Regions from separate parts of the Homo sapiens genome. Here region 1 is linked to region 2. The links come from fine-mapping of genetic effects on gene expression. Tissue or cell type: ileum. Region 2 holds a variant in brackets; the other region holds the start of a gene. All regions are shown on one strand. Distances are from middle to middle.

Region 1 (2,680 bases), 180 kb after region 2:
CAGCCAAACTCCACCTCCACCTAGCACTGGAACACCCTTACTAACAGGCCAGCTGGATTCCTTCCATAATTCCCTTCCCCCTCCCACCTCAGATAAGGGACAGAGCTGAACCCCTTGTCTTGCCTCCGTGCAGAGCCTCCGTGCAAGAGGGCTCAGGAGCTGGACATCCCCAACACCCGCTGCCCTGAAGGGCAGAGCCCGAGAGGACTTAGGGCTTGGGGAGGTGGAGGGATGGGAAGATTTCTGGGGACAGTGGGAGGGAGAAGGAAGGGGAGTGCCCAGTCCCGCCAACTGCCCTCTCGATAGATCCCCAGAGTTTTTCTGGAACTTGGCGGGCCCGCCTCCGGGGCTGGGACGCGGTGTTTCCCGAGTCCGCTGGGGTTCCCGGTCTGGCTGCTGGGATTTTAGGGGAGGGGACCAGGACTCCGCTGGGGTCTCACCCTCGCTGTGCGTCGCTGTCCGGGCAGTTCTGGACCGACTCTGCCGTCAGGCCCCTCACCCGGTCCCCACCCCAAGGCTTCAGCGCCCGCCCCCGTCCGCCCCCGCCCGCCCTAATAGCGCGGCCCTTCCTCTCCCACGCCCCAGCGGCCCCCGCCCGCCCCTCCCCGGCTGGTGGAGAGGGGCGGCTCAGGGAGGGGCCTGGAGCTGCAGATTGGGGGGAGGAAAAAAAAAAGGAAAACAAAACCACATTTATGGGATCTCAGGGTGGAAATGTGCGGGCTCCATGGCCTCTGCCATGCAGGTGCAAGGGCTCTCTGGCTCGGACTGCGCCCGGCAGGCATCCAGCAGACGCCGGGAGCCGCGTTTACGCTGGGTTTTCAACCATTCGCTGAATGGAAACGCCTCGCCGGGCCCGCAGCCCTGTCTCTCCGCAGTTCCCAGGTCTCCCCAAACTCTCCCTGTGGTCTCCCAGCCCCGCTCCTCCGCGTGTTTCCCTTCAGTTCTCTCCCCCTTGTCCCCAGTGGTCCCCCTGGCCCCTTCCCCTCCCCTCAACCCTCTTCCAGGTTCCATCGTCTTGCCCTTCTCCTTTCAGGTCCCTTCAGACCCTCTCCCCTTCCCTTCGTTTCTCGCCCAACCCTCCGTCCCCTTTCCGCTCCCCGGACCACCCCCAACTTTGGTGTCCTCAGCCCCGCCTCCGCGCCCCGCCTCCGCCGCAGGCTCCGCCCTGTCCCCTCCGGGCTTGCTCAGCCCCTGGCCAGGAGCGCCCTCTGGCGTCTGCGCATGCTCACTGCTCCCGACTGCAAAGTCCTCCAAAGGGACCTTCTAGGCTGCGTGCCGGTCGCCCCCGCTCGGGTCCGCCAGCCCGCAGCGTCTCGTTGGTGCTGCCGGTGACCTCCGACCCCGCGGCCGCGGGGCGGGGCGGGGCGGGGAGGCCTTAGCTCCGGGCGGGCGGCGGCTGCTGCAGCGGGACCCGGGAGCGGGGCCCGGCGCCGCCCGGGCCGCGGGGCGATGTGAGTCGGGGCGCGGCGGGGCGGGGACGAGGCGGCTTCACCGAGGCCGCGCCGCGCCGCGCCGCGCCGCGCCGCAGTCTCCACTCCCTCCCTAGGAAGCCCCGGGCGGGCGGGCAGGCGGCGGAGCACCGGGGCTGGGGGCGGGGATCCGGGGACAGCGCGCACCCAGACCTCCTCATTCCTTACGGGCATGTAGAAATTCCCCTTGACAGTCCTGTAGCCTGTCCTGCAGCCTCTGGCTCCCCCAACCCACCTCTACCCTCTCCGCCCTGGACACATCATCGCATCTCCTGGAGCCCTCAGAACCCCCTCATTCACTCAACAAATCTCCTGCTATGCCCACGGACCCACCATTTCTCTTGGATGCCCCCAAATGCTTCCACTGCCCGGAAATTCCTAGGATCCCTCATATCCCCATTCTCCTTGCACTATCCAAAATGCCCACATCCAAAATTCTTGCTCATGTTTCCCCAAACGTCCTCATACGTTTTCAGCCCCCACACCCCCCTCTCACTCCTGCCCCTGATCCATACCTATCCCAGACCAGAGGCCTCTCCCCATTTCCACTCAATGCAGTCCCTCCTCAGTGGGCTATCTGATACATCCTGATATCTTAAGGAGAAGAGATGGTGATAGGGAAATTCAGCCCCTCCCCCATCTTGCACCCTAGAGTTCTTCGTTTCAGTGCCCGCGCCGTGCCCCCGTCGGTGGCTCAAGCCCCAGTATTTTCCCAGCAACCTATCTTTAGTCTGTGCACACCTCCCTGAGCCTGCTTCTTCCTTCCAGAAAATAAGCCAGACCAAGGGGATGGGGTCCTTTTACCTGGAAGTTGTCCAAGGATGCAGGGTGCAAGGGGCCCTGGGAAGTGTTTCTCCAGAGCAGGAATGTGGGATGTCCAGGGTCTGCAGAGTCCTGGCTTGTTGACTTGTCTACCTTGGGCTCAGATATCCTGAAATTTTGGCTTACTGTTAACATTTATGTTAAAATTAGGCCTTTCAGAGCTTGGGGAGCAGAAAATCTATCAAGCTTCCAAATGCGAAATTGAAGCAGCCTGTCTTGGAAGATGAACATGTCAATTTTAGTGAAGTTTGTCTTACGTTTTTACCTCTGCAAGTTATTTAAGCTAGAAGCTCCCCAGTTTATAGATGGTTCCCCCAAAAACTAAGGCCTTAGGTGGGAGTTGGGGGGGGCGTTGACTTAAGTCTCCCAGATACTTAGTAGCAACAAAA
Region 2 (2,680 bases):
TTAACTGGAACATATTCTTACCCTACCTAGATACCAAAAAAATTAGAAGATTCAATTCCTGATTTCAGGGAACTTTCTGGCCACATGATGAGTCAAAGCCCCAAACCCACATACTTGAGTCAATTAAATAATCAAGTAAAGGTAAATTAGTAAGAAGGAAAGCAAAGCACATCTAAATTCCCCCAGGAGACTATATTCTCTTTAAGAGAAAAGAACTGTTTTATTTGTCTTTGTATTGTTTGTGGCCCCAGGTATATCTTGTGTTTGATAGGATCTCAATAAAGTTCTGTGGACCAAGTGAATGAATAATACAAATTCTACTGTACAGAATAGAATGACTCACCTAGCAGGGGTTTTCGAGTTTGGGGGAAGTATGGCTTTTTGCTAAAAATGTAAATATATATTTTTTGCTCCATGCTGTAACAACCCTAATGACAATTTAAAAATGAAAAAGTAGGCCAGGCATGGTGGCTCACACCTGTAATCCCAGCACTTCGGGAGGCCAAGGTGGGCGAATCACTTGGAGTCAGGAGTTCAAGACCAGCCTGGCCAACATGGTGAAAACCCGTCTCTACTAAAAATACAGAAATTAGCTGGGCATGGTGGCTTGCAACTGTAGTCCCAGCTACTCAGGAGGCTGAGGCAGGGAATCACTTGAACCCAGGAGGTGGAGGTTGCAGTGAGCTGAGATTGCATCACTGGTCTGTCTGTCTGGGTGACAGAGAGATTCTGTCTCAAAAAAAAAAAAAAAAGATAAAGATAAAGTAAGGTAAAGTTTGGTGGCTCATACCTGTAATCCCAGCACTTTGGGAAGCCGAGGTAGGAGGATTGCTTGAGGCCAGGAGTTCGAGACCAGCTTGGACAACATAGACCCCATCTCTGCAAAAAATTTTAAAAAACAAAAATAAATAGAAATGAAAAAGCAAATAACCTACAATGAGAGGAATCTGGAACTGTGAATGGCTGACAACAGGTTGGGAAAGACTATCCAAACAGGGGAATTGCCTGAGCAGAGAGGCAGGAATCAAAGCACACATCTTCATGCAGGGTACCTCTTCCAGCAGGTTAACCTTTGGAACTACAAAGATGTGGTGCCTACCCTCAGGAATTTCCATTTTTTTGGGAGAAAACAGGATTTATTCACAGGAAACAAGGAGAATACTTTACAACAACCATTAAGTGGATGCGTGCCCTTAAGCG[A/T]CATTGATCCTTCTGGCCCTAAATTTCTGTGATCTTTCAATTCCACACCCTGCGAGCTTCATGGAACAGATGGGCCAGGAGCTAGGCCTTAAGGGAAGAGGCTGGATTTGGAGAAAGAAGCAGGATGCCAGCGGTGGGTGATAAGGCCCAGAGGTGGGCTGGAGTGCTAGGGCTGAGATAAAATTGGTTAGGGCTGCTGGGGCCTCTTCTTGAAGGCAATTTTGAAAACCAGGCTGGTTGTCTTTTAAATTTAACCTGATAAGCAGGTCCTTGGACTGAAGACGAAAGGAGTGTCTGTGAGAGATTAATCAGATGGCCTTGGGCCATTGATTTGGATCTATCTGGAAGCAATGTGAAGATGAGGCTCTCTGGGAGGCTTTTGCAACAGTAATATAGGCCCAGCCTTTCAACGGAGGATTTGAAAACCCCTAGGAAAACTCCTTCTGCCAGTTGTTTGTGTGGAGTTAACTTTTCCTTTAGTAACTTAAACCATTGTTTTTTGTTTGTTTGTTTGTTTGTTTTGAGACGGAGTCTCATTCTGTTGCCCAGGCTGGAGTGCAGTGGTGCGATCTTGGCTCACTGCAAGTTCCGCCTCCCGGGTTCATGCCATTCTCCTGCCTCAGCCTCCCCAGCAGCTGGGAATACAGGCGCCTGCCACCACGCCCGGCTAATTTTTTTTTGTATTTTTAGTAGAGGCGGGGTTTCACTGTGTTAGCCAGGATGGTCTCGATCTCCCCACCTCGTGATCCGCCCGCCTCAGCCTCCCAAAGTGCTGGGATTACAGGCTTGAGCCACCGCGCCTGGCCACCATTGTTTTATATTACAACAATTAGGGCTATCTTAAGGGCCAGAATCCAAGATGTATATAGGTTTCTAAGGCAGAATATTTAGACTTCAAATAAATTTCAGTTTTGCAGAGGGCAATCAGATTTAGATCATGCTATCAGATTCCTCAGAGAAATCCATTCTTCTTTGCTGTAAAGGGTTTAAAATCTGAGGACTAAAGAAAGATGGTGCCATACATAAACATGTGTAAGTTGCAAGCAGGGTGGGAATATGATGGCCTACCTTTAGAACGTTGAGGATCAGCCTTGCTTAGTACTAGGAAAGTTCTGGCCAGGTTGGTAATGGAGGCGGAGCCAGCACCTCATGGTCTTTCCCAGCCCTTTCTAAAGGCCCTAGTTCTGCCCACTGAACTGGCATGTTTGGCACTTTCCTGGTTTATGTTTATTTATTTATTTTATTTTATTTTATTTTTTTTGAGAAGGAGTCTCGCTCTGTCGCCCAGGCTGGGGTGCAGTGGCACAATCTTGGCTCACCGCAACCTCCACCTCCTGGGTTCAAGTGATTCTCCTGCCTCAACTTCCCAAGTAGCTAGGATTACAGGGGCCCACCACCACACCCGGCTAATTTTTGTATTTTTAGTAGAGACAGGGTTTCACCATGTTGGCCAGGCTGGTCTTGAACTCCTGACTTTGTG

Evidence for each region. PIP is the estimated chance that this variant, and not a neighbour inherited with it, causes the effect.
Region 1: it holds the start of FRS3, and the variant in region 2 is fine-mapped to the expression of FRS3 in ileum (GTEx, PIP above 0.99).

What each region holds. Positions count from the first base shown.
Region 1 is chr6:41,778,587-41,781,266 of GRCh38, reverse strand. It overlaps FRS3 (fibroblast growth factor receptor substrate 3), which reads left to right and starts at 1,367. Exons shown (of 7, transcript NM_006653.5): 1 at 1,367-1,451. PRICKLE4 (prickle planar cell polarity protein 4) reads right to left here and starts at 485. Exons shown (of 8, transcript NM_013397.6): 1 at 441-485. RefSeq lists silencers at 702-771, 1,052-1,461, 1,492-1,641.
Region 2 is chr6:41,956,073-41,958,752 of GRCh38, reverse strand. It overlaps a transcript of CCND3 not described here. Among named protein-coding and RNA genes, the nearest start is that of CCND3, 16 kb to the right of the region's middle. The variant A/T (reference allele first, on the strand shown) is at 1,201.